Linked DNA regions of Homo sapiens: region 1 is linked to region 2. The links come from fine-mapping of genetic effects on gene expression. A gene starts in region 2. The other region holds a variant in brackets. All regions are shown on one strand. Distances are from middle to middle. Region 1 overlaps PDPR (pyruvate dehydrogenase phosphatase regulatory subunit). Region 2 holds the start of PDPR (pyruvate dehydrogenase phosphatase regulatory subunit).

The links.
Region 1: its variant is fine-mapped to the expression of PDPR in tibial nerve (GTEx, PIP 0.98). The same link has a PIP of 0.9 or more in whole blood.

Annotation. Positions count from the first base shown.
Region 1 is chr16:70,156,011-70,165,768 of GRCh38, forward strand. PDPR (pyruvate dehydrogenase phosphatase regulatory subunit) reads left to right here. Exons shown (of 19, transcript NM_017990.5): 19 at 465-6,527. The coding sequence ends at 869. It overlaps LOC400541 (a long non-coding RNA gene), which reads right to left. Exons shown (of 3, transcript NR_126007.1): 2 at 2,795-2,879; 3 at 330-494. Among named protein-coding and RNA genes, the nearest start is that of CLEC18C, 13 kb to the right of the region's middle. The variant G/C (reference allele first, on the strand shown) is at 3,561.
Region 2 is chr16:70,109,255-70,120,310 of GRCh38, forward strand. PDPR (pyruvate dehydrogenase phosphatase regulatory subunit) reads left to right here and starts at 5,078. Exons shown (of 19, transcript NM_017990.5): 1 at 5,078-5,186; 2 at 5,567-5,676. RefSeq lists enhancers at 5,042-5,091, 5,612-6,554.

The DNA of each region.
Region 1 (9,758 bases), 46 kb after region 2:
TCCCAAGTAGCTAGAACTATAGGCACACTCCACCACACCCAGCTTATTTTTGTATTTTTAGTAGAGATGAGGTTTGCCTCATCTCTGTTCAAGGCGTGAGCCACCACGACTGGCCAATATAAAAACATTTTTCTAAAGTACTGGACTGATAAGGTATTTTATTAAGTGAGTGAGTTTTCTTCCTAAACGTTTTTGTTCTATCTGGTCTTGTGACTTTATGTTTATAAAATAGGAAACAAAATGCGTACCTCTGTTGTTACAAAAATTACCGCGGCGTCTTTTATATTTCACATGCAGTTTTTCACATGGTAGAAATCGCACAGTTTCCCAAAAGCTGGCAGGGTTGTGGGAGGAGGCGGCTGTGCCCCATTGCAGTGACACCAGGGGACCCTTCCCACGGTGCTGCTCTCTGTGCCGAGGGTCTGAGTGTCGCTGGATGACTCGGCGTTTCCTTTCTTTCTTAGGGCATGGATTTCATTGGTCGCGACGCCCTCCTGCAGCAGAAGCAGAATGGAGTGTATAAACGCCTCACCATGTTCATCCTGGACGACCATGATTCAGACCTAGACCTTTGGCCTTGGTGGGGAGAGCCCATTTACCGGAATGGGCAGTATGTTGGCAAGACCACCAGCAGTGCCTACAGCTACAGCCTGGAGCGCCACGTTTGCCTGGGCTTTGTGCACAATTTTTCTGAGGACACGGGGGAAGAGCAAGTGGTGACAGCAGATTTCATCAACCGGGGAGAGTATGAGATTGACATCGCGGGATACCGCTTCCAGGCCAAGGCCAAGCTCTACCCTGTCGCCTCCCTCTTCACCCAGAAGCGCCGAAAGGATGACATGGAGCTGAGTGACTTACATGGGAAGTGATGCCACCAGGGCAGCCTCACCTCCTCCCCATCATCTTGTCCTAGAGTGGGCGTCACCTTGGAGCTTCTCTTCCTTCCGCCTCTGTTCCTCTTCTGGAGCCTTTGCCTCCCATCTCTTATCTCCTTGATATAATTTTGAACTTGACCTACTTTAAACTTTTTTGCTCTGCAGCCTTCCTTGCCCTTCCACCTCCTCCTCCTAATATTCACTCTGGGCTCTTCTTCCCTTCCCACCCCTCACTCAGCTTCTCGTGGTGGCAGGAGGTATGTCTGACAGGACAGAAGCAAGCTCCACTGTGGACATGAGTGATGGTGACAGCTGCTTTCAAATTCTGCATCTCAAGGCAGGGCAAGCCGGGGTGGTGCAGGTCTCAGGGCACGAGTCCCTCTCCCTTGGGTTCCATTTTCTTGGAGCAGCCTATTAGTTCTGGTGGGGTTGCCGTGTGTCGGATGCAGCCCTGAGGGGCAGCTCGTGCCTGCAGCCCGGCAGCTCGTTCTCCTGTTCTGCTGTGCTGTGGGCTGGCACTCGATACCTCTGGCAAGAGGATGATTATCTACCTCACTGATAAGAGGCATCGCATGGACGTTCTCTGGTCTGTAGTGGAGACAAGCAGTTAACCTAGCACCATCCTCATCCTCCCTGCAGAAGCCATTAGCAGACCTTTGGGCCAGGGCAGCCTCCCTATAATTTTCTTCATCTCTTGCTAATCTCTATAATAAGGTTGCTTTTTCTTTCTTAGTTGAGTAAACAAGTAAGCCACAGTGTTTGAAAGGGAAAAACCATATTGCCTTGTGTGTTGCTTTTCCCAGTCAAAAGGGTCTGACCTTAGAAAGTCCCCACCAGTGATGCTGAGTGTTCTGCTATGGAAACAATGCTGCTTTTCTCTCAGCTGTCCAAAGTTCAGCCGTTCCTCCTTCCCCTTCTCCCAGTGCGTTTGACTTTGTCAGGTCAGCCTCACTTGTCCCTTTCACAGTTGGCCCATAAAGTCATGTTTCTCTCCCTTTAGAATAGGGAGGGGAAGGGATCAGGTGTGTTGTCCTGGGCCTTTCAACCTTGCGGGCTGTGCTGAGTTCCAGAGAGCTGCCGGAATTCCAGGTTTGACTCTCCAGCACAGAGCAGAGCTACACAGAGGTGACCCACGTTAGTCCACTGAGAGTTCTGAGTCCAAAGGGTGTACGTTGCATAAGGCTAGAGACCGCTTTTCCTCCTTTCCCCCCAGGCTCTTTGTTTCCCTCCACCCACCCTTCCATATCCTCTGGAGCAGGAGACAATGTGGGTGCCCAGAAGTGCCCTGCGCTTTCAGGCAGTGTCTCTGTTTTCCCAAGGTGAAACTTAGATATCATGGACTGTTGTCCAGCCTCAATGCTTCATTTTCCCCTTGCATATCAACTGCCCTAATCTGACTTTTTTTAAGTGCAAATAAACTGCTATAAGACATTTTGGTTAGTAAAACTCTAGCCTTTGGCGTGTTGGTATCTTGGAAGCATTAGCTCTGATAGGTCTATAAGTGTATTAAGGGACATCCTTCCATTTCATTAGAGCAGCTTAAAATGCTCAGGTGTCTGCCTTCTCTGGTGTTTCTTTGGGATCTCTGTTTACCCACTTACGCTGGCTCCTTCTAGACATTTCTTGCCACTTCCCCAACTAGACCACTCCTAGTGATTACTGACTTTAGTGCCTAAACCTTTTTGGAAGGTTCTGGTTGGCTTGTTAGAGGAGCATATGATTAGAATTCTGTTTGGGGGTCTAGTTGTCTTGGAGCAAGTATGTACTTAACTAGCCGAGAGATGCTGCCTCTAGGCAGAGAGGAGGAGAGGTGTTGCCGGCTGGAGGGCCAACCAGTGAACACCAGCTGTGAAGGCCTTGGGAGAGGAGGAACAGGCCCTTGGGCAGATGCAGGCATTACCAGCAGGGAGCAGACTTACCTCCGAAGATGGAGACAGGTGACTGAGAGCTGCAGGCCTCCTCTGCTCTTCCAAACACGTAGCATTTGCACCCCTCCAAAGCCATCTTTGTAAAGGAAAACGTATTTGTAATTGAATCCAGAAGAATTTAGTTACACATAGACATAACTCTTCAACCTTAACTATGGCAATACATTTGTGCTTTAACTGTTACATAGCAGTATCACCACTTACCAGGATCCAAATCGAAATAATAAAAGCTGTCTCCATAGTTTAAAATCGAATAGTGCCATCATCACAGTATATTAGTCAAATAGAAGCTTCATCAGAAATGTATCCCACATAGAGTTTTAAGACTTGGATTCTCTTCTGCCCTTGTTAATCTCCAACTAATTACTACAGATTGACACGTTTTTAATTAGCTGTCCTTTGTAAGAAGTCAGGAAATCTGATGCTGTGTCCAAAATTATGCACTGTTTGTTGAAGTAGAACCAGAAATCCTGACCTCCTGTTAAATGACATCAGTTTCCCCCTCTGAGCAACAGACTGCTTGTCTTGCTAGGAGAGGAGGATGGGGGGCTGAGCACTCAGGCTGTCCATTGAAACCCCTTGTCCATGAATAGGGTCATACTCCTAAGACTGATGGGGTGTTGATCTTCTAGGACATCACTTGTTTATTCAGTGCCCCAAACACAGATTTCTCTTCTAGCACTTTAGAGTTGATCCTTGAAGTCTCTCCTGGTTCATTCAAATACAAGCTGTGTGAGTCTGGTGGTTTTCTGTGATT[G/C]GTCTAATGTGAGCTCTTTGAACAGACAGATCTGACAGTGAATGACTCTCCCCTGCTTCTGGCATAACTGCTTTGCCTCTGTCTAGTGTCCAAGCATCTTAGCTGTTCAAGAGGAGAGGGCAGCATAACTTCCTGACCACCGGTGTCAGATATCAGAGCATTCTGGACTCCTGAGAGGCAGTGGCCTCTTGAGTGAACAGGGGAGGCCAGTAGATGCCCCAGATCCAGAGCCGTGGCTGCAAATCCAGCAGGAATAAGGAGGGACAACCACAGCCTCCTCATCCATGTGTCATTTCCAAGGGTTTGCCTTGTGTCTCAGCTCATTCTGGGCAGCACGTTTGTCTTCTGTCCCTAGAGATTTGAAGGATTTTGGACTCTTGTGAATGGGTGACTGGACTTGGCTTTACAGAGTTGGGTGCTTTTTTCTCTCTGCAATTACCTGTCATAGCATTTTGTGCTCACCACGAAGGATGGTCTCTGCCTTCTCTTGTCGGTGTATGCCATCTGAACCTAGGAACACAAAGTATATTGGCCTCAAACGGAGACCCAGGGTTGCCAGTTTTCCGTGGGCCTTCCCCTCCCTTGAAATGTCTTTAATTACCTCCCCTTCATCGTCAGGCCACGTGTGACTTCTGTTCTTAGCACTGCCAGGGTCATTGACTTCCATCTAAGCTTGCATCAGGAAGATGTTCCTTCTGTGATCATTGGTACTGAAGCCAGAAAAGCTCTCATTCAGGAACTCTGAAGAGCAAAAAGGGACAAACACTAACTGCTGAGCTGGGCCATTTGATCTCCTTTCACCTTGCATTGCTGTCACAGCACCTTGTATGATGGCAGGACAGGCTCCAGCAGAGAGAACTGCACAGTGACCACTGTATTTTTCACGCTCTTCCAGGGATCCCTGTCCCCCGACATTGAAGAGATCTCATTCAGGCCAGAGACACAGAGACCACATAGCCCAGTGATTAAACCCCGGTTTCACTCTGGCCCCAGGAGTGGAGCCTGGCCACTCCTGTTTGGTTCTCACTGGGAGGCCCACTGGCCTTGGATCATCTCCTCATGCACACCCGGAGTTTTACCTGCTTGCTTGCTTTCCTGGACTGCTGTTTGCAAGAAAGTAACTAAAACATGAAAAGTAAACCTCCAGCTTCCACAGTATATTACCTGCCGTTGCATGCATTTGAAAGTTAGCCTCCTCCCTTGCCACCGTCTTGGTGGCAGTAGCGATGCAAGAATGATGGGAGCTTTCCGAGAGCGTTCAGTGTTTCACTGAAGACAGGACCCATAGCCTTCATTTCTGGCTCTGTGTCTCCTCTGGCATATGGACACATTTCCTGGCATTTGCCTGAGTCTACACCACTTTTTGAGAACCTGAAATAGAAGGGAATCTTCTGTGGCCCACAGTCTCCATATTGGCACTAGAAGACTGGCCTGGCGGAGGAATTTGCGTTGGCTTGCTTTCAGGGGTTAGCTACAAGATTCAGCTTTATATCTCTGTTGCTTCTTGGCCAGTGTAGTCAATAAGGGTCTTCTTTAACATCTAAGATAGAGGTTTGGTTGGCCGGGCGTGGTCGCTTACTCCTGTAATCCCAGCACTTTGGGAGGCCCAGTGAGGTGGGAGAATTGCTTGAACCCAGGAGGCAGAGGTTGCAGTGAGCTGAGATTGCACCACTGCACTCCAGCCTGGGTAACAGAGTGAGACTCTTGTCTCAAAAAAAAAAAAAAAAAAATCTAAGATAGAGGTTTGGTCAACAGTGCTTAATAATAAATAAGAACCTCCTGCCATTCTAATTTTCCTGCTGCACCCCATCCCCCACACACCCCTCACGAACATTGATATAAGCAGTATTAACACAGTATAAAGAATGTTCACCTTGCATATGTCATTTCAGGCACATGGATTCAGGAGAAGCACAGTTGAGTGGAAGAAATGGTAGACTTGTGAGGCTTGCCCCAGGCCTTGTGTACACGCAATAAGTGGTGAGCCATGGGTCTCTCCGTCAGCGCCTCCCTCCCCGCCACCACTTCAGGCCAACAATTTAAGGTGCTGAGTTGTAAGGCTCCTCCATTGTCAGTACAGGGCTCGCCTTTGTAGCCCTGATCACTACCAGTACACTTTTCAAGACAACTGAGTATTTTTGTATGCCTTTGCCTTCCCTTTGTCCATGAAACATGAAGAGTTGTTTATGGTTCTTGACTTCTCTGAGCAGAGTGTCTGCATCTCTTGGAGAGTTACACATTTCTTCATGAGCCATTTTTCTCATTCTTAGATGCACCTGTTTTTATCCTTTGCAGACCATCTTCTGCCTTCTTATTTTCCTGTCTGTCAAAGACAGAAATTACAGGAGATAGGGAGGGTTTTTTAGCATCTCTTTCAAAAGATGTATGTCAGAATTTCCTTTGCACACCAAGAACTGGAGCTTAGAGCCCCACTATTCTCTAAGCCAGGTTCTAGTGCCTTACACTCCAGAATGTCAGATGGTGGGTGCAGATTGGAAGAAAGAGAAAAGTTCATCTCGGTGTGTGGGTTCCCATCCGCCCCACATAGCCTCTCCTTCTTCGGAACAATGGGCGTGGGGTAGAAAGCTCTTTCAGTGAAGGGTGTTCTAGCAGCTCAGTTAACACTTTACTCTCCAGTCAACACTTGGGACATATAAAAATGCCATTGTAACTACTGTAGAGTCCTGTGACTCATCGTTTGTGTTTGTCAATTTGCAGTTCAGCTTAGCCCTTCCCTGTTCCTGTGTAGTTACAATCTGGCCCTGAAGACATCCGAGGCACTTCAGTAAGTGGGATCTTTTCTAGAGATCCTGGGTGACTTTGGGTGCACAGGGTGACCGAGCATTTCTGCCCCTGTGAATGTGGCACTAACACTGTGCACTGTCTCCACCAAGCAAGGTTTCCACTGAGTTTCTTCTCATGTTACTGGGTTTGTAAATGAATAAACACATTTTAACTACTCTTGCACGGCTGCTTGTGAAATGTTCTTCATCTGTAGTGACTTAAATGTGTTTGCCACCACAAAGCATAAACAGCGTGCAGAGGAGAGTGTGTACCTCCCTGTGTGTACCAGTGTGAGGGAGGATTTGGGGACGGGGGTAGAGAAGATGTAGGTGTTTATCTTACCCTCCCTGCAGCGCTGGAGTGGCTGGGGGTAAAAGCTTCCCGCCTCCTGAAATTCCGACCGGCCTTCTGCCTACAGCTGACCTCAGGAGGAACCTGCCACCTGATGTTCCACACGGGCACGTGTGCACTCAGGTTTGTGTGGAAAGCAAGGGGGGTCGTGTTCTCACCCTGTGGAAACAACCCTGAGAGAAACAACCAGTGCTCTTTTTCTACACCAGCTTCCATCCACAAGTTGGTCCCTGGACTTGACCTGTTCACTAATTTTTTTTTTTGAGGCAGAGTCTTGCTCTTTTGCCCAGGCTGGAGTACAGTGGTGTGATCTTGGCTTACTGCAACCTCCACTCCCAGGTTCAAGTGATTTCCTGCCTTAGCCTCCAGAGTAGCTGGGATTACAGGCACGCGCCACCATGCCCAGCTAATTTTTGTATTTTCGTAGAGACGGGGTTTCGCCAGGTTGGCCAGGCTGGTCTCAAACCCCCAACCTCAAGTGATCCACCCACCTTGGCCTCCCAAAGTGCTGGGATTACAGGCGTGAGCCACTGTGCCTGGCCCAAAGTAATTTTTGAGTAGTTTTTTTTTTTTTAAGTATTTGTACTTTTGAGAATCTCATAGGTTAACATGTTTACAACAATCTCTTCATCTTGTCTTCTAAATCAGCCCCTTCTATTCCAGTTCCAGGAATAGTCAACCACGCCAGAAACCTGGGACTCACCTGGTCTCCCCACTCGCCTCTCCCTACACCTCCCGCTCATTACCCAGCCTCACAGGGCTGTCTCCTCAGTGCCTCTCCTCTGTTCGGACCTCACTGTCCCCACCACTGCTGCTGTGGCAGAGAGGGTTGTCAGCCCTGACTTCGAGAACAATCTCTTACTGATTTTCCTGCTTCTCATGTCATCCCCCCTCCCTCTGCAGGGTTGTCTTTGTAAAACAGGGGAGGTCAATTTACTCACTGCCTTGAAACCCTCAAGGGACTCCCCTTTGTCGTGAGACAAAGCTCTCAGTCCTTAGCCTGGCCAGCCAGGGTCTCCAGGGTGTGGCAGGCCACGCTGCCCCAGGGCTCCGGCCTGCGCTGCGTGTGATGTGGGTCCTGCAGCCGAGTGCGTGCTCGCCATCCACAGCTGGATCTCACCTCGAATCCTGCTTTCCAGTCACACTGAGAGGTCTCCCACTCCCATATTTGCTCACTAAAATGCCTCCTGGCAGCCCTCCCCTGTGCTTGTGGAAAGTCGCAAATTGAGGATCACATGGACCCCCACTCCCCCAAGTTGTCCTGACAGAGACCTCCTGTCTTTCATTTGATTGATTGATTGAGACGGAGTTTTGTTCTTCTTGCTTAGGCTGCTGGAGTGCAGTGGCGAGATCTCGGCTCACCACAACCTCCGCCTCCCAGGTTCAAGCAATTCTGCCTCAGCCTCCTGAGTAGCTGGGATAACAGGCATGCGCCACCATGCCTGGCTAATTTTGTATTTTTAGTAGAGACGAGGTTTCACTATGGTGGTCATTGGTCAGGCTGGTCTCGAACTCCTGACCTCAGGTGATCAACCCACCTCAGCCTCCCAAAGTGCTGGGATTACAGGTGTGAGCCACAGTGCCTGGCCCCTCCTGTCTTTCAAAAGCTCTGCCCAAGACCACCATCATCCCACAGTGGAGCCTTTCCTTCCCCAAGAGAATGGCCCCTTTGGGGTCCTCACACACCCGTTTCTGATGTGTCTTTATTTGGTTATCTGCCCTGCTCCTTCTGTAAGTCCCTCGGAGAAAGACTCGAATTCTCCCAAACTCCAACACCTCACATGGTGTTTGGTGTTTAACAGATGATTAAATGAATGGGCAAAAAGTGGAGGGCAAAATCTTTAAAATGTCTTTTAAGATTTAAGGATTTTAGGCCAGGTGCGGTGGCTCACACCTGTAATCCCAGCACTTTGGAATGCCGAGGCGGGCGGATCACCTGAGGTTGGGAATTCGAGACCAGCCTGACCAACATGGAGAAACCTTGTCTCTACTAAAAATACAAAATTAGGCGTGGTAGCGCATGCCTATAATCCCAGCTTCGCGGGAGGCTGAGGCAGGACAATCGCTTGAACTCAGGAGGTGGAGGTTGCAGTGAGCCGAGATCACGCCATTGCACTCCAGCCTGGGCAACAAGAGCGAAACTCTGTCTCAAAAAGAAAAAAAGATTTAAGGATTTTAAATGTTTGATTTTTTTTTCTTGTTGAGATAGAGTCTTGCTTTGTCGCCAGGCTGGAGTGTAGTGGCGTGATCTCGGCTCACTGCAACCTCTGACTCCCTGGTTCAAGGGATTCTCCCACCTCAGCCTCCCGAGTAGCTGGGATTACAGGCACACGCCACCACGCCCAGCTAATTTTTTGTATTTTTAGTAGATACCGGGTTTCACCATGTTGACCAGCATGGTCTCGATCTCCTGACCTTATGATCTGCCCACCTCAGCCTCCCAAAGTGCTGGGATTACAGGCGTGAGCCACCGCGCCCGGCCTGAAAATTTTTAAATGATTGTTTGCCGACTTTACAACAGGACGATGTTGTTGTTCGCAGGCCAGTAGGTGGCGCTGTGGCACGTGATCTGAGCCTCCTGGATTCACACAACTGTTCATGTGGAGAACCCAGTGCCGGGACCCATTAGCACCCCAGTCAGGCTATGCGTCTCCCTCCCAAGGGTGCTCACCTGGTGTGGCCTTCATGGCACAGGGGGAGTGAGATGAGGCTCCTTTAGTACACCCTCCCCTGAGAAGAGCGACGTGTGCTTACCCTCCAGTGGCTTGTTCTCATGAAAGGCTCCACAGTTAGGGACCTTCAGATGCTTAGATCTGGGGTGTCACCTGACTCAAGCAGCTCAGAATCCCAGATTGTTGTGGTGGGTCAAGGGCATGGGGCTTTGGGTTTACTGGCCTGGGTCTGAATGCCAGCATTGCCTCTTCCTTGGTGTATAGGACCTTGGGTGGTTACTTTTCCTAGGCCTCTGTTTACTTGTTTTAAAATGGACAGTGATGCCTACTTTATAGGGTTGTTATGAAACTCAACTAATGAATATAAAATACTCGACCCAGACTGGCATGG
Region 2 (11,056 bases):
TTACACGCGTGAGCCACCTCGCCCGGCCTGTGAAGTCCTTAAGATGGAGATTTACAAAGGAAAATGAAAGCCAGAGGTGAGGTTTTGGTTTAAGTGAGTTGCAGAGGCAACAGTAACTAAAGGGTCAGGATTGTAGAGAGGAGAGCTGACAGCCTGCAGCCACTTGCATTTGCCAACTCTGGCCAGAGGCTGAGGATCCAGGTTTTTTATGTTTTTATAGTCTCACCAGCCGGAGTGACAAAATTTGGAGGCTTGAATGGCCTCGAATAGATGGCTAGGTCTCAAGCCATCTGGTGAAATCTGAATACACAAGATGCAAACCTGAAACACTAAGCTTAGACCTCTCTAAAGCAGAGCGGAATTTTGCAGAGTCACAGTGCTGAGTAAAAAAATTACCCAGGAATGGTGGCGGGTGCCTGTAATCCCAGCTACTCGAGAGGCTGCGGCACGAGAATCGCTAGAACTGAGGAGACAGAGGCTGCAGTGAGCTCAAATCGCTTCACCGCAGTGAGCTGAGATCGCGTCACTGCAGTGAGCTGAGATTGCGTCACTGCATTCCAGCCTGGGCGGCAGAGTGAAACCCTGTCTCAAAAAAAAAAAAGAAAGAAAGAAATCAGTAATTCCAGCACTTTGGGAGGCCAAGGTGGGTGGATCACTTGAGGTTAGGAGTTCAAGACCAACCTGGCCAACATGGAGAAACCCCATCTCTGCTAAAAATACAAAAATTAGCCAGGCATGGTGGCGTGTGCCTGTAATCCCAGCTCAGGAGGCTGAAGAAGGAGAATCGCTTGAGCCTGGGAGGCAGAGGTTGCAATGAGCTGAGTAGACAGTTTTCAAGATCTCTCAAAAGGAGGGAACCTGGGGTATACTACGGGATTTCAGTTGAAAGACTTGGAGAGCTAGGCCCTGGGAACAGAGGCAAGTGAAGTAGACAGAACCCTATCAACACTGCATCCCATAGACCTTGAGCTAATAAACACAGAAGGAATTACAGAATTAGAAAGTTACCATTTGATAACCACCATAGTAAAATCGTCTCAAGCAAGTCGAGTCAGTGGATAATAAAACTAGTGAGGCTGGGTGTGGTGGCTTATGCCTCTAATCCCAGCACTTTGGGAGGCCAAGGCAGGCGGATCACTTGAGGTCAGGAGTTCAAGACCAGCCTGGCCAACATGGTGAAACCCCATCTCTACTAAAAATACAAAAAAATTAGCCGGGCATAGTGGTGGGCGCCTGTAGCCCCAGCTACTCGGGAGGCTGAGGCAGGAGAATGGCGTGAACCCAGGAGACGGAGCTTGCAGCGAGCCGAGATGGTGCCACTGCACTCCAGCCTGGGTGACTGAGCGAGACTCCGTCTCAAAAAAAAAAAAAAGAGAGAGAAGTTCCAGGCCGGGTGTAGTGGCTCACGCCTGTAATCCCAACACTCTGGGAGGCCGAGGCGAGCGGATCACAAGGTCAGGAGATCGAGACCATCCTGGCCAACATAGTGAAACCCCATCTCTATTAAAAATACAAAATTTAGCTGGGTGTGGTGGCACACGCCTGTAATCCCAGCTGCTCAGGAGGCAGAGGCAGGAGAATCCCTTGAACCAGGGAGTTGGAGGTTGCAGTGAGCCGAGATCGCACCACAGCAGTCTAGCCTGGCGACACAGTAAGACTCCGTCTCAAAAAAAAAAAAAAAAAAGAAGTTCCTGGCTGGGCGCAGTGGATCAAGAGATCGAGACCATCCTGGCCAACATGGTGAAACCCCGTCTCTACTAAAAATACAAAAATTAGCTGGGCATGGTGGCATGTGCCTGTAGTCCCAGCTGCTCAGGAGGCTGATGCAGGAGAATGGCGTGAACCCGGGAGGCAGAGCTTGCAGTGAGCTGAGATCGCGCCACTGTACTCCAGCCTGGGTGACAAAGCAAGACTCCGTCTCACAAAAAAAAAAAAAAAAAAAAAAAAAAAAAGAGTACTGATTGCTACTCGCAACATTCTTCTCTTCCCATGGTGTGAATGAGAACATCCCTGCTTTCCACACAAACACAGGCTCTCAAGCACACGAGAAGCATGCCAGGTGTCAGGTCCTTTCTGTGAAGTCGGTTGTAGGCAGATGTCCAGTCTACTGATGGGGACAAGAACTTCAGAGGGAGGAGGGAGGCCTTCCCCACAGCCATGCCGGTGCTGCAGGGAGGTAAGATAAACGCCTGCATCTTAGCGACCTCAGATCCAAATTCATTCTTACACTGTGGTAACATAGGTATGTCAAATGTTTGTCTGTACACTGTTTATCCTGTGTGGTAGCAAATACATTTACCAAGTCACTGCAGATGAAGATTTCACAAGAGGACTTGACAAGCGTAATTAAAACGTCTGTTTAGGGCAAGACATGGTGGCTCATGCCTCTAATCCCAGCACATTGGGAGGCCAAGGCAGGTGGATCTCTTGAGGTCAGGAGTTTAATGCCAGCCTCAGCAACATAGTGAAACCCCACCTCTACCAAAAAATACAAAAGTTAGCTGGGGACGGTGGCACGCGCCTGAGGTCTCAGCTATTCGGGAGGCTGAGGTGGGAGAATCGCTAGAGCCCAGGAAGTTAAGACTGCAGTGAGCCGTGATTGCACCACTGTGCTCCAGCCTGGGTGACAGGGTGAGAGCTAATCTCAAAAAATAAAAATAGGCTGGACGCGGTGGCTCACGCCTGTAATTCCAGCACTTTGGGAGGCCTAGGTGGGCAGATCACGAGGTCAGGAGTTTGAGACCAGCCTGGCCAACATAGCGAAACCCTGTCTCTAATAAAAATACAAAAATTAGCCCAGCGTGGTGGCGCACGCCTGTACAGTCCCAGCTACTGGGGAGGCTGAGGTAGGAGAATCCCCTGAACCTGGGAGGCAGAGGTTGCAGTGAACCGAGACCACACCATTGCACTCCAGCCTGGGCAACAGAGTGAGCCTCCATCTAAAAAATAATAATAAAATAAAAACACTCAATCCCCTAGAAAAAATAGTGCATCAGTGGTTATGAGAACCTACTAAGGACAAGACCCATCTTTGACAATGAAAGGGGCCTTAGGACTTACTTCCCTTTTTTTTTTTTTTTTGAGACAGTCTCGCTCTGTCGCCTAGGCTAGAGTGCAGTGACACAATCTTGGCTCACTGCAACCTCCGCCTCCTGGGTTTAAGCAATTCTCCTGTCCCAGCCTCCCAAAGTAGCTGGGATTACAGGCATGTGCCACCACGCCCAGCTAATTTTTGTATTTTTTAGTAGAGATGGGGTTTCACCATATTGATCAGGCTGGTCTCGAACTTCTGACCTCACGTGATCCAACTGCCTTGGCCTCCCAAAGTGCTGGCATTACAGGCATGAGCCACCGCACCCAGCCTGACTTAGCATTTTGGAGTGGAGGCCGATCATGGTGATGGAGAAGGAAATCAGGGACAGATCTACACCATTTGTTTGCTATTTACTGCACGTAAACAGAATGAAATCAACACATTAAGTATTTCACTTGATTTCATCCACCATCTCCTGCAGACAACCAGGTTTCTCCCAAATTCATGTGCCTGGAAATGGCTTGAACCAAATGGTTCATGAGGAAAACCTGTGATATTTTTCATGAAATCGCCACATCTGGGCATCAGGAAAGCCTTCCCCGAGAATGTCTCAAATTGGTCAGCCGTTTTCTCTTTTTTTAGACAGGTAGGTGTCCCCAAGCATTCAATCCTAGCTAAAATATGGAAGTATTTATCTAGCACAGGAGCCTATGGCATAGTTTCAGTCCACTGTCTGGCAGACCTCATCTGGGCTGTCTTTGTGTGATTTGACTGGCCAGTAAATGGGGTATAAACTATGTAGGCTGTGGCCTGGCCTTGTGACAGAGGGGTCCCTGGAACTTGACTGCCACTCCCTAAGAGCAGAAACCGCCTCTTTCTTGTACATTGCTGGATCCCATCATCCTGCACAGTGCCTGGCTACAGGTGGCCAGCAATAAAACACAAGATTGGGGCAGGCACAGTGGCTCACGCCTGTAATCCCAGGACTTTGGGAGGCTGAGATGGAAGGATCACTTGAGGCCAGGAGTTCAGGCCCAGCCTAGGCAACATAGTGAGCCTATCTCTACAAAAAAAAAATTTTTTTTAAATTAATAAAACACAAGATTGGTTTGTGTGGTGAGACAGTATTGAATCCAACAAACGGGAACTGGATAGTGTGGCCCAAGATGCAATGGTGGCTGCAGCATGAGACCCTTATGCATATAATATTCAGTGGAAGAGGTGCCAGGCACTGTTCTGGGTGCTGAGAATAAAGCTATGCATAAGACTAAGGTTCTGTCGACAGAGATCGTGTCACACCAGTGGAAAAGACAGTCATCAAACTTATATCCTTGAGTCAGTGATGAGTTCTAGAAGGAAAGAAAAGGCTGATGTGACAGTGAGGAAGGGATGAGTGGAGACTTCTCTGAGACTTCAGTGATTCCTCTTCCTCTGAGCTGAGCCAAGCTGAGAAGCTGAGAAGAGTAAGATAGGGCCGGGAACTCAGGTCCGTTAGTCCGTCCTCCGAGGTGGGGCGGGCCAGCAGAATGGATTTCCGATCTACTCTGTGAGAGCCTCGCCCAAGAAAGCCCAGAGCCACTTCCAAGATCCGCGCTCCCACGGCGATGAGAAGCGTTTTCCCCCGGGACTGCTTGGCTTAGGACTGGGGACCCACTGGCTTTGGAGTAAGCCCTGGCACGGGCCTCGAGGGAAGAAAGAACTCCCGCGCTCCCCACACTCCACAGGGCCTGCGATCATCTCAGATGTTCCGGTTCCACGTGCAGAAACCCCGCCGGTCCGAGGCCCCGGTTCTAAAACGGCCCTAAGAGTCAAGGCTTCCACAGCTCGCCTCTGAGGGTGGCAAAGAGGCCGCGGGGGCGGTGCCTCGCGAGACCCAAACAAGCCCACGTGGCAGGGGCGGGGCTCCGCGAAGGCGTCACGGCGCGCTCGTGCGCTGCTGAGGTCACGCGCCGGCAGTACCCTTGCCCGGGGGCCGTAAAGCGCGGAAGGTCGCGGTCTCGGCTTCCCCGGAACTTTTTGCTCGCTTCGCCCCGCCCCCTTCCCATCCCCGAACCCCGCTTTCCGGCCCGCGGCGACCCCAGGCAACTGTTGTGGCTGCCGCATTGCTCCCGCCGGGCTGTAGCTGAGCGCGGAGCCCGTGGGGACCGGTGAGGTAAGGAGATAGCTTCGGGGCAACTCTGGCCTCCCCGTCCGCGCGGGCCTAAGCGCCCCGGGACCCCTGGGTTCCCCTCTTTCTCCTTTGGTTTCGCCCGGGGGTGGTCCCCGCTAGCTCACGCTTCCAGTGGGTTCCGCCTGGCCTCTCGCGAAGTCGCGTCCGGGCGCCAGTACTCGTCCCCGTAAGGTTGTCCGCTCGTGCCTTGGCTTGTGTTCTCGGCTACCCCTGGGCGTGCGCACCGCTCCTCCAGGAGCCTGCACTTCAGCCCCGATGCCAGGGCGGCCGGGGTGACCTCGGGCTCCCCCGTCTCGGGCTTGCACACCCCTGCGGCGCAGAGCCAACTCCAGCTTGTCTAGCCCGGTCCTCCATCCCTGCAGATGGAACTGTTTTCCCGCGTTGAGACGTGCGGTCCGCTTGTGCTTTTAGAACTAAAGACTGCTGCAGAGTCCGGAGGAAGAAGTCACCTAGAAAAATCTGGGACAGGGCAGTAAGCTTCCTTCTTAATGTTTGACCTTTGGGGGCCGATGTGTGATACCTCGGATTTGAATCAAGAATCTCCAAGCCCATTTTCCGCATGCATGTAAACGTGATGTACCGGGATGGGGTCTGGTGGTGGAGGAGGAGCCAGCCTGACGGATAAGCTTTTCCAGTGGCAGGGACTTGTGTTAATTTCTTTTTTCTTTTTTTTTCTTTTTTCCGAGACAGAGTTTCACTCTGTCGCCCAGGCGGGAGTGCAGTGGCGCGATCTCGGCTCACTGCAACCTCTGCCTCCTGGGTTCAAGCAATTCTCCTGCCTCAGCCTCCCAAGTAGCTGGGAATACAGGTGTGCGCCACCACGCCCGGCTAATTTTTGTGTTTTTAGTAGAGACGGGGTTTCACTATGTTGGCCAGGCTGGTCTCGAACTCCTGACCTCGTGATTCTCCCGCCTCAGCCTCCCAAAGTGCTGGGATTACAGGCGTGAGCCACTGCGCTCGGCCAACTTGTGTTAATTTCTTAAACTTGCGTGATCACCTGGTGTACTTGTTGAAAAATACAGCTCCCTGGAGTGGCAGGATCAGAATCTGCCGAGGTGGACCGTGGGAATCTGTCATTTTTAAACAAGTGTCCCAGGTGGTTCTTTTGCTGAGGCAAGTGTGGGAAATGTTGTGTGAACCCACGCTCATCCAGTCTTCCTTGTGACCGGCAGTCCACTGTGCGCAACGCTGCAGCCATACAGAGGGACAACTCGAAGTTAGAACTAGCACCTTGGTCTTGTTGGAATAAGCAGATCTGAGTAGAGCCAGCTGCAGTCTTATGGTTGTTTAGCAGAAGTTATTCTTCTTAGCAGAGAATATTATACGGTCATTTTCCAGAACTGTAAAAACTCTATCATTTGTTTTAAACCAGATGATGTGCTTCATTTCTGTCTTTGACGTCTTCAGTTTCTTCTCCCCTGGCTTTACCTCCTTTGTTATCAGTTTGTGCTTTGGTTTTGCTGCCAACCTTATAGGTTTAGGTTTGGCGGCAAAGGCACTAGACTCTGGTGCCTTCTTTTCCTTCGTTGTCTTAAGCCCTTCTTTTCCTCTGCCCTCATGCCCTCACCACTTCACTCTTTTGAAGGTCATAATGAACACAAGGTCAGAGATCCCTTTTTTGGCGCCAAGCACCCTGGGCTTTTTTGAGATGGAGTCTCACTGTGTCACCCAGGCAGTGGCGCGAATCTGCCCACTGCAGCCTCCATCTCCCTGGTTGAAGCAATTTTCCTGTCTCAGCCTCCTGAGTAGCTGGGACTACAGGTGCAAGCCACGACACCTGGCTAATTTTTCTGTTTTTAGTAGAGACGGGGTTTCACCATGCTGATCAGGCTGGTCTCAAACTCCTGACCTCAAATAATCCACCCACCTTGGCCTCCCAAAGTGCTAGGATTACAGGTGTGAGCCCCTGCGCCTGGCCTTTCTTTGTTTTGTTTTGTTTAAGACAGAGTCTCACTGTGTCACCCAGGCAGGAGTGCAGTAGCATAATCTCGGCTCACTGCAACCTCTGTCTCCCAGGCTCAAGCGATCCTCCTACCTCAGGAGTTCAGGACCAGCCTGGGCAACATAGTGAGCCCCTCTCTACAAAAAAAAAAAAAAAATTAAAAAAATTAATAAAACACAAGATTGGCCTGTGTGGTGAGAGAGTATTGAATCCAACAAACGGGAACTGGTTAGTGAGGCCCAAGATGCAATGGTGGCCGCACCATGAGTACCTGGGACCACAGGTGCGTGCCACCACACCCAGCTAATTTTTTGTATCTTTGGTAGAGACGGGGTTTCACCATGTTTGCCAGGCTGGTCTCCAACTTCCGACCTCAAATGATCTACCCGCCTCGGCCTCCCAAAGTGCTGAGATAACAGGCGTGAGACATGGCGCCCGGCCTAAAGTTTTTTTTTTAATTCCACCTTAAAACTCATCTGTTACTGTGTTTGTTCTGCCACCTTTGCAATTCCCTTTCTCTGTTAGGGGAATGTGCTTAATGGTTCAGTCCTCACAGCTGTCCTTTCCTTACCATCTGCTTTTATTTGAAAGGTAGCGTGGAGTCATGATTAAATAGCCGGCCACTAATGCCAAATTGGCAGGGTTCTGCTACTCAACAGTTTGGTAGGACCTTGGGTGAGTCACTTCCACTTATCTGTGCCTGTTTCCTCAAGTGTAGAATAGAAATGCTAGTATCTACCTCATAAGGTTGTGAGGATTAAATTAGTTATATATATAGGCAGTATCTGGTGCATTGTAACTACTTATAAAAATATTAGCTTTAAAAATTATTTGCCGGTCACAGTGGCTCATGCCTGTAATCCCAGCACTTTGGGAGGCCAAGGCAGGCGGATCACGAGGTCGGGAGATTGAGACCATCCTGGCTAACATGGTGAAACCCCGTCTCTCCTAAAAATTAAAAAAAAAAATTAGCCAGGCATGGTGGTGGGTGCCTGTAGTCCCAGCTACTCAGGAGGCTGAGGCAGGAGAATGGCATCAACCCAGGAGGCAGAGCTTGCAGTGAGCTGAGATCGCACCACTGCACTCCAGCCTGGGCGACAGAGCGAGACTCCATCTCAAAAAAAATAAATAAGATGTCAAAGAGGCTGTGACCTGAGGAGATTACCTGTATTTGGGGGAGAGGTGGCAGGAACCATGCCAGGAGGGAACAGCATGCACAGAACCTGGAGCCGAATAGAACACTCACGCCTCACCTGATATGTTTGACGAATTACAGGTTGTTCAGTCTGGTTTGGTCAGAGTGTGAGGAAAGGAGAAATGAGACCACAGATAAGAACCAGAGTGTGAAGGATCTTGCACTTGATATGAAAAGAGTTTTGCCTTTTTCCTGAGGGCATCAGAAAGTCATTAAGGTGGGTGTGGTGGTTCACGCCTATAATCCCAGCACTTTGGGAGGCCAAGGCCAGTGGATCACCTGAGGTCAGGAGTTCAAGACCAGCCTAATCAACATGGTGAAACCCTGTCTGTACTAAAAATACAAAAAGTAACTGGGCGTGGTGGCGCGTGCTTGTAGTTCCAGCTGTTCAGGAGGCCGAGGCAGGAGAATTGCTTGAACCTGGGATGCAGAGGTTGCAGTGAGCCGAGATCACACCGCTGCACTCCCAGCTGGGCGACAGAGTGAGACTCTGTCTCAAAAAAAAAAAAAAAATTGCTGAGGAAAAGCAGCAAAAAGGGAGGGAAACGTTGCAGGTACATGAAAGAGAGATAGCAGTTGATGGAGCTAGGGTCAAGAGAAGAGAGGAGGAAGTGGGATCCAGGGCCCTTGGGGGAGATTAACTTTCCAGTGGATAAAAGAAGGAAGGAAGAGATGGTTGCAGATGCAAGTGGGTCTATAGGAAGGGTTTCAGGGAATGAGATGAGCCAGGTTATCTGCTTAGAATGAGGGAAGAAAGGAGGTGAAATTGAAGGTTGAGAGAGGAATAGCTGGGCTCTGAACCTGAATACAGACAGAGGTCTGCCTGTGGCTTAACATGTGCTAGCCTAAGCCACCAAGGAGCAGGACAGTTTTCAAGTATAACCGAGTGGTCACGGGTCAGAAGCCAGGAGGTTGACAGTGAGGTCAATGGGACGGGGCTGGCCATTTGGCAGCAGCAGTTCCCCAGGAGAGCTGTGTTGCCATTGGGACAGAGGGTAGAGAGAATGTCAGCAAAGGGGTGGGTGTTTACCTTTGGGAAAGGTATTCTGGAGGGTGCAGTAGAGGGGCTTGAAGGAGAGGAAAGCAAAGAGAGCTTGGGCCACGGGAAATAAATTGGTCACGTGGAGATGAGATTATGGAAAGACTAGCCGGGTAGAGAAGCTTCTGTTTTGAGATGGTGCTTAACAGGGACCAGGGATGAGAGGCATGGTGGCAACCACAAGGTGGCCAAGACAATTTGTCTCCAGTTGGATGGGATGTCTGCCTGGACACAGTCTGTGCTTGCATTGGTTGCAATTCTGAGAGTCATCTCTGATGGATGGACATAGATACCTTGGCCTTGGACAATTTGTGCTGACTGTGGAGCATCTGTGGGTCCTGTGGCTGGCAGTGGAGGCGGTAAGGAGATGACTAGCAGTGAGCTACCCTAAGGCCCCCTTGTCTACCGCCTCTCGTCTCAAAGTCCTCATCCTCCTGTACACATGACTGCATGGACAGCCAGTAGGTGCTTTCTTCTTCAGTTTCTTGAAACTTGAACAGTCATCTGTTTTGCTGATAGATTAAGTTTGTTAAAACCCTGCCTTGTCCAAGGGCAGTGGTTCATGCCTGTAATCTCAACACTTTGGGAGACCAAGGTGGGAGGATCACTTGAGCCTAGGAAGTCAACTCTGTTTTTCTTATAATTCTACCATCCGCTCTCCACCATGGAGCCAGACTGACCTTTGGAAAACATCCCCCAACCCCCCACCGCCAAAAAAAACAAAGAAAAGAAAAACATCCCAGATCATTTCATTCCCCTGCTAGTGATACTCCCGCATGAGTGATTTTCCTTTGTACTTTGAATAAAATTCCAACTCCTGCTGATGGCACCCAAGGGCTGTGTGTAACTGGCTTCCGCCTGCCTCTCCAGCATTGTCTTAGATCATCTCCCCACACTCCCCGTGTCGTGTACATGCCGGCCTCCTTTTTGTTCTTGGTCTGTCTTACCTCAGGGCTTTTGCACATGCTCGTCTCAGTGTCTGCCAAATGTATAGCTCGTTCCTTATCCTTCAGGTCTGTTTCCAAATGTCACTTCCTTGGAGGCTGTTTCTGACCATCCTGTTTTAAATATGCCCCTAGTTACTCTATCATGTTAGCTTTATTTACTGTTTTATTTGTATGTTTATTTGTATATTGATTGGTGTTCTCCTCATTCACACACGCAAACTCTCAAATGTAAATTTCATAAAGACAGGGACTTCCCCATTCTTGTTCACTGCTAGCAGAATATCTGAAACTCAGAATGCCCTCAAATATTTCTTTTTTTGTTTTTTTTTTGTTTGTTTGTTTGTTTTTTTTTTGAGACGGAGTCTCGCTCTGTCGCCCAGGCTGGAGTGCGGTGGCGCGATCTCTGCTCGCTGCAGCCTCCGCCTCCCGGGTTCAAGCAATTCTCCTGCCTCAGCCTCCTGAGTAGCTGGGATTACAGGCACCTGCCACCATGCCCAGCTAATTTTTGTGTTTTTAGTAGAGACAGGGTTTCACCATGTTGGTAAGACTGGTCTCGAACCCCTGACCTCGTTATCCACTCGCCGCGGCCTCCCAAAGTGCTGGGATTACAGGTGTGAGCCACTGCGCCCAGCCTAAGTTTTTGAATTTTTAGTAGAGACGGGGTTTCACTGTGTTAGCCAGGATGGTCTCGATCTCCTGACCTCGTGATCCGCCCGCCTTGGCCTCCCA